Linked DNA regions of Homo sapiens: region 2 is linked to region 1. Evidence: fine-mapped expression QTL. A gene starts in region 1. The other region holds a variant in brackets. All regions are shown on one strand. Distances are between the middles of the regions.

Evidence for each region. PIP is the estimated chance that this variant, and not a neighbour inherited with it, causes the effect. A credible set is the group of variants that fine-mapping cannot tell apart.
Region 2: its variant is the best candidate, but not a certain one, in a credible set for the expression of SLC1A5 in whole blood (TOPMed, PIP 0.71).

What each region holds. Positions count from the first base shown.
Region 1 is chr19:46,786,079-46,791,446 of GRCh38, forward strand. It overlaps SLC1A5 (solute carrier family 1 member 5), which reads right to left and starts at 2,516. Exons shown (of 8, transcript NM_005628.3): 1 at 1,322-2,516. The coding sequence starts at 1,887. RefSeq lists enhancers at 1-377, 2,184-2,785, 2,434-2,728 and silencers at 1,594-1,643, 1,654-1,703, 2,674-2,833.
Region 2 is chr19:46,814,061-46,819,428 of GRCh38, forward strand. No RefSeq gene overlaps it. Among named protein-coding and RNA genes, the nearest start is that of SNAR-E, 14 kb to the right of the region's middle. The variant G/A (reference allele first, on the strand shown) is at 3,292.

The sequences.
Region 1 (5,368 bases):
TTATTGGTGTGTGACCACATAGGTGTGTATGTGAGTGTGTATTGTGTGCTCTTGAGCCTGTGTTTAGATGTTGGCGTGGCTGGTGGCATCACTGAATGGCTGTGCTACAGGGGTCTTAGTACACAGTGAGCGTGTGTATGACCGCTGGTATCTGGCCATGTGTTTGTCGAGATGCTACAGCCTCAGCTGAGTGTCTGCGTGAATGTGTCCAGCTGTATGTCATTTGGTTATAAGCCTGTGTGGCAGGCCAAGTGTGAGCTACAGCTGTTTTGGCACGCAGGGGAGGCCTGTGCTCATAAACAGCCTCGGAGTGGGTGTGCCTGCCTGAAGGTCCGCCTGTACCACCCAGGCCCAGGCTGGGCCAGGACCCAGCTAATCTCCCCCAGCCAGAAGGTGCTCCCAGGCTTCAACTCGGGACACCAAGCCTGCCCCAGTCTCGCATCTCAGCCTGCACTGACGCCCCAGAGGCTGGAGAACCCTGTTCCGTGACTCATCATTTCCTTCCCCCAACTTCCAGGAAGTCCCCAACGTGGAGACACTGAATGAGCAAGCCCTAAAGGCAAGCGCAAGGGGGCCTCTGCCCCCCGCCCTCCTCAAAGTGGGGGAGGCCATTCTTGGGGGCGCGGGGCAGAGGCCAGGAGAAGGAAAAGAATCTGCTCCCCTTTCTAACTGGTCCTCTTCTGGGCTGCCTGCTAGGGGGTGGCCCAGACAGAGGAGGAAACGGGAGGGAAAGGCAGGGGTGGCAGGGCTGATCTAAAAGATAAAGGGGAAGCGGCCAGACCCCAGCTGAAATGGGCGGGAAGCGGAGGCCAAAAACAGAGCCTGGTTATGTCCGAGTGACACGTGGTGTGGGGGTGCCCCAGGGCTGGGAAGAGGGCCTGGTGGGAGTTACTCAGATCTCAGATCCTCCAGGGGCTCCTTACCCAAACTCTCCAACCCTGGCCCCAAATTATATCTAGAAGCCCCATCTTGGGGCCCTTGACCACGCAAAGATTCCCCCCGCAAAAGTTCCTCCTGGGGTCCCCTCCCCTCAGTGTCTTTCTCCCCTAGGCAGACCCTCCTATGTCTCCCCAAATCACTTTCTTCTCCCTCTATAAGACCCCACTTATGTACCCAGGCCCCCAGATTTAGAAACCCCTTCCCCAGGAGACTAGACTCACACTCCCGAGGGCTGGAGCCTCCCCTCAATATCCTGTCGAGTTTTCCTAAGACTCTAGAGGGAAGTCTCTGCTCCAGGGGCCCCAAAGCCCCGTCCTGTCCACGTGACCACTCCCGCCATCCGTAACACTCTTCCCCACCTCCCGGGGGAGCGGGAGCTGACCTCGCAAGATCCAGGAACGAATCGAGCACCTCCTTGCTGGGGGCATTTTCGGCACTGCCCGCGGCTCCCACGGAGGCGTTGATGGCGGCGGAGGCGGCGCCCGGCTGCAGAGCCAGCGCCAAGCCCACTCCGAGCGCCGACGCCAGCAGCGTGGTGACCAGGAAAAAGAGCAGCGCCCAGGCGCCCAGACGGCCGAGCGCGCCGGGGTCCAGGCTGGCGGCGCCGCCGATCAAGCTGCACACCACCAGCGGCAAGATGATCATCCGCAGCAGACGCAGCAGCAGCTCGCCCGGGAAGACGAAGGCGCTCAAGCGCTCCGGGCCCAACGCCAGCGCACCCCCGGCCCCCGACACCCCCAGTCCCAGCGCCACGCCGGCCACCACGGCCACCACTGTCAGCAGCACAAGCAGGTTGGCTCGAAGGCAGCGGCGCACCTGGTCCCGGGAACCGCAGTAGCCGCCTGCTGCCGCGCCTTGGTCCTCGATGGAGGCCAGCGCCAGGCCCCCGTTGGCGGTGGGCTCCGCCGCTGCGAGCCCCTTGGAGTCTCGAGGAGGATCGGCCACCATGATGGGAAGCACCGGGGTTTCTTAGCGCCTGGAAGCTGGCTGGGAGCGCTTGGGCTCCTTCCCAGGACCCGACGTTCCTAGGACTGAGTTGAGTAACAGCACCTGGAGACTGGAACTTTGGAGGGCTCCTTAGAGTTGTGAGTTCACAGCACTGAAGTTCCTTGGCTCTTGGAAGCTGGAGTGTTTAAATTCCCCAGGCTGGGCGCTGAGGCTTCTCTGCTCTGCCCCGTGTGCCAGATGTCCGAAAGCTGGGAGTTCGGAGCGCCCGGGTTCCTTGGCCCTAGGAGCTGGGAATACGAGAGTTTCTCTGGGTGGGACGTGGGGCCCTTGGCTCCAGGAGGTTGAGTGCCCCCAGATGGCGGAGGTCTGCAGGAGGCTAGGTTCTGGTGGCGCAGATCCCGGACGCCTGGATCCGGGAGGCGGGGACCCGGGCTGCCTGGGTCTTGGACACTGAGGGCTGGGATGCCAGAATCTGGGGGCCGGGAAGCGGACCTCCGGAAACAGGGGACCCAGGCTCTTAGGTCCGGGAGGGTGGGATGCGGGCCCCTGTGTACGGAAGGCGGTGGTCTGGTGTCCGGGAGTAGCGGTTACCAGCCAGAGAAAGCCTCCCGGGCGTGCCGCGTGGCTCTGAGCCCGTTTAGCGGAAGCTGCCAGGGATAAGGGTAGGGGGCGGGGCTTGAGAAGGCGGGGACCGACCCTCGGGCGCCGATTGGCTGCAGAGCGTTCGGAGACTGGACGAGTAGGGGCGGGGCTGATACCCGAGATGGGCCAGGTCCCCCATAGAAGGCAGATTAATAATACCCATCTCCAGGAGCCGGGCCCAGAGACGACGGGGCGGGGCCAGGAAGGGGCGGGGCCTTGGGAGGGTGCTGTTTCCCGCCAAAGGAACTGGGTTGTGGGTTGGAGCCCTTAAACCACAGGGGTTCGTTCCCTGGTGCGAGGGTCGCTAGAAAGCTCCGGTGGTCCTCGGTGATTCATTTGCAACTCAACTCAGCTTTGGAACTCCTCAGCCCTGAGTTTGGTCTTTAGTCGCCTCTGAGAACTTTAATTCCTCGAATATAAAGTGCAGGTGTTAAAAGCTTTTGTCTCATATGATTGCTGTAAGATTTAAATAAAATTGATGTATTTATTTAGGGAGCCGTGGCTCAAGCCTGTAATCCCACCACTTTGGGAGGTGAAGCGGGCGGATCACTTGAGGTCAGGAGGTCGAGACCAGCCTGGCCAACATGGTGAAACCCGTCTCTACTAAAAATACAAAAATTACCTGGTGTGGTGGCACGTGCCTGTAATCCCAGCTACTGGAAGCCTGAGGCAGGAGAATCGCTTGAACCCCAGAGGCAGAGGAAGTCATTCACCTTGAGGCCACACCTAGAGAGGATGACACGTGCATGCCCACCTCCCAAGCCCCTAACCGCACCCACTCTGCTGCCTCCCCAAATTCTCTGTTAGTGGCCGTTTGGGAGGTTAACAATGAATTATGATTCCTTACTCCACCTGACAGTGTTGAAATCCTCATTCCTTTCCCATCTCTAGCCTGTTCTGTGACATTTCAGGCTTTCATGCTTGCTCAAAGATTGTAGTGGTAATGTCAGAAGCTTCCTCCTACAGCAGCTGTGAGGCCTCAGGTAATTTACAACCTCTATGAGGCTCAGTCTTCATATGTGTAAATGGGAATAATAATAAGTCATACCGCCTTGAGTGTTGCAAGGGTTCAAATGAGATAATACGGCCGGGCGCAGTGGCTCACGCCTGTTATCCCACCACTTTGGGAGTTGATGCGGGCAGATCACTTGAGGTCAGGAGTTCCAGACGAGCCTGGCCAACATGGCAAAACCCTGTCTCTGCTGAAAATGCAAAAATTAGCTGGGTGTGGTGGCACATGCCTGTAATCCCAGCTACTCAGGAGGCTGAGGCAGAAGAATTGCTTGAATCCAGGAGGCAGAGGTTGCGAAGAGCCGAGATCTCACCACTGCACTCCAGCCTGGGTGACAGAGTGAGACTCCACCTCAAAAAAAAAAAAGTTATTTATTTGTGCTTTAAAATTTTTTGTTCTTTCTCTCTTCTTTTGTTTCTAACAAAAATGCCCTTCAGAAGAAAGTCAAATACTACTGCTGCGATTGCTGTTATTGTTATTATTACTGAAGAACAAGCTGGATTCAGTGGCATGCACCTGTAGTCCCAGGTATTTGGGAGGCTAAAGCAGGAGGATCCCTTGAGGCCAGGAGTTCAAGGCTGCAGTGAGCTATGATCGTGCCCACATTTAGCCACTAGACTCCATCCGGGGCAACATAGTGAGACCTTATCTTTAAAAACATGAAAATAGGCCAGGCATGGTGGCTCATGTCTGTAATCTCAGCACTTTGGGAGGCCAGAGTGGGCAGATCATGAGGTCAGGAGATCGAGACCATCCTGGCCAATATGGTGAAACTCTGTCTCTACTAAAAATACAAAAATTAGTTGGGCATGGTGGCATGCACTTGTAGTCCCAGCTACTCAGGAGGCTGAGGCAGGAGAATCGCTTGAACCCGGGAGGTGGAGGTTGCAGTGAGCCAAGATCACACCTCTGCACTCCAGCCTAGTGACAGAGTGAGACTCCGTCTCAAAATAAATAAATAAATATTTTAAAAAATTTTTCGGCCGGGCATGGTGGCTCACGCCTGTAATCCCAGCACTTTGGGAGGCCGAGGCGGGTGGATCACAAGGTCAGGAGATCGAGACCATCCTGGCTAACACGGTGAAACCCCGTCTCTACTAAAAATACAAAAAATCAGCCAGGCATGATGGCGGGCGCCTGTAGTCCCAGCTACTCGGGAGGCTGAGGCAGGAGAATGGTGTGAACCCGGGAGGCGGAGCTTGCAGTGAGCCGAGATCACGCCACTGCACTCCAGCCTGGGCGACAGAGCGAGACTCCGTCTCAAAAAAAAAAAAAAAAAAAATTTCACAGTGGCTTACACCCTTAATCCCAGCACTTTGGGAGGCCAAGGTGGGAGGCTCACTTGAGCCCAGGAATTTGAGACCAGCCTGGGCAACATGGCGAGACTCCGTCTCTACAAAAAAATTAAAAAATAAGCTGAGTGTGGTGGTATGCGCCAATAGTCCCAGCTACTTAGGAGGGTGAGGCGGGAGGATCGCTTGAGCCAGGAGGTCAAGGCTACAGTGAGCTGTAATCTCACCACTGCACTCCAGCTTAGGTGACAGAGCAAGACTCAGTCTAAAGGGAAAAAAGATTTAGGCTGGGAGCGGTGGCTCACGCCTGTAATCCCATCACTATGGGAGGCCAAGGCAGGTGGATCACTTGAGGTCAGGAGTTCAAGACCAGCCTGGCCAACATGGTGAAACCCCATCTCTACTAAAAATACAAAAACATGAAAATAGGCCAGGCACAGTGTCTCATGCCTGTAATCCCAGCACTTTGGGAGGCCTAAGTGGGCAGATCATGAGGTCAGGAGATGGAGACCATCCTGGCCAATATGGTGAAACC
Region 2 (5,368 bases), 28 kb after region 1:
TCATCCCCGCCCCCGCCACCTCTTCACCAAACCCTGTTTTCTCCTGGAGATCTTGGATCCTTCCTTCATCTAACAAATATTTGCCGGACGTCAACCCTGTGTCGGGCACCCTGCCAGGGATTGGGGAACACAGGGTTAGGAGAGGCTACATTGTAGTGGAGAAGGCAGGAAATAAAGGAGTCAACAGAGACTGCAAACAAGGGAATGTTTTCTTTTCTTTTTTTTTTTTTTCTACAGTGTTCATGGGCTTGATTTAAAAGCTTGCTTATTTATTTATTTATTTATTTATTCATTCATTCATTTATTTATTTTTGAGACAGGGTCTCATTCTGTCACCCAGGCTGGAGTGCAGGGCGTGATCTCCACTCACTGCAACCTCTGCCTCCTGGGTTCAAGTGATTCTTTTGCCTCAGCCTCCTGAGTAGCTGGGATTACAGGCGCCCGCCACCACGCCTGGCTAATTTTTATATTTTTTGGTAGAGACAGGGTTTCCCTGTGTTGGCGAGGCTGGTCTCGAACTCCTGGCCTCAAGTGATCCTCCTGCCTCAGCCACCCAAAGTCTGGGATTACAGACATGAGACACAGTGCCCAGCCAAAAGCTTATCTTTCTTATTTATTTATTTATTTATTTTTGAAACAGAGTCTCACTCTGTCGCCCAAGCTAGAGTGCAGTGGCACAATCTCAGCTCACTGCAACCTCCACCTCCCAGTTTCAAGTGATTCTCCTGCCTCAGTCCCCTGAGTAGTTGGGATTGCAGGTGTGCACCACCACACCCGGCTAGTTTTTTCTGTTTTTAGTAGAGACAGGATTTCACCATGTTGGCCAGGCTGGTCTCGAACTCCTGACCTCAGGTGATCTGCCCACCTCGGCCTCCCAAACTGCTAGGATTACAGGCTTAAGCCACCGTACCTGGCCTATTTGTTTTTGGAGATGAGGTCTCGCTATTTTCCTCAGGCTGGACTCAAATTCCTGGGCTCAAGTGATCCTCCCACCTCAGCCTCCCAAAATCCTAGTGTTTACAGGTGTGAGCCCCAGCACTTGACATAAGAGAACTATTTTAAAATTTATTTTTAGAGACAGAGTCTCACCCCATCACCCAGGCTGGAGTGCAGCAGTGTGATCATAGCTCACTGCAGCCTTGAACTCCTGGGCTCAAACAATCCTCTCAACTCAGCCTCCTGAGTAGCTGGGACTACAGGCGTGCACCACCATGCCCAGCTAATTTTTTTGATTTTTTTGTAGAGATGAGGTCTCACTATGTTGCCCAGACTGGTCTTAAACTCCTGGGCTCAAGGGATCCTCCTGCTTCAGCCTCCCACAGTGCTGAGATTACAGGCATGAGCCACTGCACCTGGCCAAGACAATTTTTTGAAAGAGCTCAGTGCTGCAAGAAGAATTCGTCTGCAATCTGAGTGAGGATAAGGAACCTGCCTGATGAGGGACTGAGAAGAGAGAAGCTGGCAAAAGAAATAGCAAGTGCAATGAACCAGACGTGAGAATGAACTTGAAGTGGTCAGGAATCAGATGGAGACCAGGGGCCATGGCTCACACCTGTAATCCCAGCACTTTGGGAGGCCAAGGCGGGTGGATCATCTGAGGTCGGGAGTTCAAGACCAGCCTGGCCAACATAGTGGAACCCCGTCTCTACTAAAAATACAAAAATTAGCTGGGCATGTTGGCGGGCGCCTGTAATCCCAACTACTTGGGAGGCTGAGGCAAAAGAATTGCTTGAACCCAGGAGGTGGAGGTTGTAGTGAGCCGAGATCACGCCACTGCACTCCAGCCTGGGCGACAGAGCGAGATTCTGTCTCAAAATAAATAAATAAACAAAAATGAAAAGAATTAGAAGGAACAGGGTGGCTGGATTCAAGGGATTGTGGGGAAGTGTCATCAGATGTGGCTGAAGAGGTAGGTTGAGATGGGCATCATAGACTCTGTGAAGAACTTAAGAACCTCCTCTTCCAGGAAGCCCTTCTTGACTGCATCAACTAGGTTTTCCCATCCCAGCCCTGTTCCCACTAGGTTGTTGCTCTTGGGGCACTGGCCTATCTGCTCCGCTGGCCTGTGAGCCCTCTGACGGCCAGGCCAGTCACCACTATGTCCTCAGCATCACCTAGCACAGGCCTGAGCACACAGGAGGTGGTCGGTAAATGCCCAGGTCATTCTGGCACTGCCAGCAAGCCCCAAGAAGCATCCCTTGCTCTGCCTCCCCGCCGCGCACCTCTGTTCCTGGGCGTAGCACCAGGGATTCCTGAGTTCCCCGTTTGGCCATTCACACTGGTTTCAGCCTAGCCTCTTTCATCCCATCCTCAAAGGCCCATGTGGGGAGGAGGCCGGGATCCAGCCGCCTCTGATGGGCTGCAGGCCGGAGGTGAAGGCTCTGAAGTGGGCAGATCAAACGCCATGTGGGTTGGGCCGCCGTTGGGGAGGCTGAGAGGAGACGCAGGTTCCCAGGCATGAGTGTGCAGGGTGGAGAACAGGAGAGCCAGGCCAGATGGGGACCAGCAAAGGGGCCCATATGTTCACCCGTCTTTATAATAACACAGCTTCCAATTGTTGATTCATTACGGCCAGGTACAGGGTTAATTTTTTTTTTTTTTTTTTTTTTGAGACAGGGTCTCACTCTGTCACCCAGACTGGAGTGCTGTGGTGACATCATGGCTCACTACAGGCGTGTGCTACCATGCCTGGTTTATTATTTTTAAAAATGTTTTGTAGGCTGGGTATGGTGGCTCAAGCCTGTAATCCCAGCACTTTGGGACGCTGAGGCGGACGGATCACCTGAGGTCAGGAGTTCAAGACCAGCATGGCCAACATGGTGAAACTCCATCTCTACTAAAAATACAATAATTAGCCGGGTGTGGTGGCAGGCACCTGGAGTCTCAGCTACTAGGGAGGTTGAGGCAGAAGAATCGCTTTAACCCAGGAGGCGGAGGCTGCAGTGAGCCAAGATCACGCCACTGCACTCCAGCCTGGGTGACATCACGAGACTCTGTCTCAAAATAGAAAAAAATGTTTTGTAGAAACAGGATCTCACTATGTCACCCAGGCTGGAGTGGAGGCACCGTTGTAGCTCAATCCAGCCTCGAACTGCTGAGCTCAAGTGATCCTCCCACCTCAGCCTCCCAAAGTGCTGAGATTATGGGTATGAGCCACCATGCCCAGCTAAAAGTCAATTCTTTTGATAGAAAGGTCAGAAGAGCAGAGAAGATCAAACAGCTGGTTCATGTGCTGATGGGAATGATCTGGATTTCTAGATTCCAGAAGAGAAGCAAGAGAGGAAAGTGGCT[G/A]GATTGTTGTCGTTGAGTAAGCAAGAGGGGAACCATCCCTAGGCTCAAGAGAAGAGGTCTTGAGAAAGAGTATATGGCAGCCAGGCGCGGTGGCTCACACCTGTAATCCAAGTACTTTGGGAGGCCGAGGCGGGCGGATCACGAGGTCAGGAGATCGAGACCATCCTGGCTAACATGGTGAAGCCCTGTCTCTACAAAAAAAAAAATTACAAAATATTAGCCAGGTGTGGTGGCAGGCACCTGTAATCTCAGCAACTCAGGAGGCTGAGGCAGGAGAATTGCTTGAACCTGGAAGGTGGAGGTTGCAGTGAGCCGAGATCACGCCATTGCACTCCAGCCTGGGCTACAAGAGTGAGATTCCGTCTCAAAAAAAAAAAAAAAGAAAGAAAGAAAGAGTATAAGGCACTCTGAGAGGCTGAGGCGGGCGGATCACTTGAGGCCAGGAGTTCGAGACTAGCCTGGCCATCATGGCGAAACCCCATCTCTACTAAAAATATAAAAATTAGCTGCTTGTGGTGGTGCGTGCCTATAGTCCCAGCTACTCTGAGGCACGAGAATCACTTGAATCCAGGAGACAGAGGTTGCTGTGAGTAGAGATCACACCACTCCACTCCAGCCTGGGTGACAGAAAAAAAAAAAAGAAAGAAAGAGTGTATAAGGCTGGACACAGTGGCTTATGCCTCTAATCCCAGCACTTTGGGAGGCGGAGGCTTTCAAATCACTTGAGGCCAGGGGTTTGCGACCAGCCTGGCCAACATAGTGAGACCTCACGTCCACTAAAAAAAAAAAATACAAAAAATTAGCTGGACATGGTGGCACACACCTGTAATCCCAGCTACTTGGGAGACTGAGGCATGAGAATCGCTTGAAACAGGGAGGCAGAGGTTGCAGTGAGTTGAGATCACACTATTGTACTCCAGCCTGGGTGACAGACTAAGACTCTTTCTCAAAAAAAAGAAAGAATATAGTTCAGCCGGGCACAGTGGCTGATGCCTGTAATTCCAGCACTTTGAGAGGCTGAGGCGGGAGGATGCCTTGAGCCCAGGGGTTTGAGACCAACCTGGGAAACAGCAAATCCCCGTGATATGATTTGGGTGTGTGTCCTAACCCAAATCTCATGTAGAATTGCAATACTCAGCCAGGTGCGGTGGCTCACGCTTGTAATCCCAGCACTTTGGGAGGCCGAGGCGGGTGGATCGCAAGGTCAGGAGTTCAAGACAAGCCTGGCCAAGATGGTGAAACCCCGTCTCTACTAAAAATATATAAATTAGCTGGGTGTGGTGGCACGTGCTTGTAATCCCAGCTACTCAGGAGGCTGAGGCAGAGAATTGCTTGAACCCGGGAGGCAGAGGAAACGCACAAAGCAAGGCAGCAAAAGCAGAGATCTATTTTAAAGGAAAGCACACTTCACAGGGTGGGAGTGGACTCAAGCTAGCAGCTGAAAAGTGTCCGTTACAGAATTTTTGGGGATTTGAATACCCTCTGGAAGTTTCCCATTGGCCTGTGACCAGTCTGATTGGTTGTAGGAGAGGACCAATTCGAATGAAGAGTAGGCCTGTAACCAGTCTGATTGGTTGTGGGAGAGGACCAATTAGAATGATGCATAGGCCCGCAGCCAGTCTGATTGGTTGCAGGAGGGGGCCAATCAGAATGAAGAGTAGGCTCAGGACCAGTCTGATTGGTTACAGGAGGGGACCACTCAGAGGTACTTTCATTTTTCAACAGCCATGCAGAAAAAGGAGGGTTTGAAAGGGGAGTAGCCTCTGATATCCAGTCATCATGAATTGGCCTTAGGCTCTCTGGCTCCAGACCCTATTCTCCTGCCTCAGTTAGAGTGATGCAAGGAGGGCCTTGAGCTGAGGAATGTGGACAGCTTCCTGAAGCTGGACAGGGCAAGAGAGCCTCCAGGAGAAGCCCTAGAGTCTCCAGAAGGGATGCAGCCCAGCCAACACCTTGATATTAGCCCTGTAAAACCCATTTTGGGGGCCTGGGGCAATGGTTTATGCCTGTAATCCCAGCACTTTGGGAGGCCGAGGCAGGAAGATCGCTTGAGCCCAGGAGTTGGAGACCAGCCTGG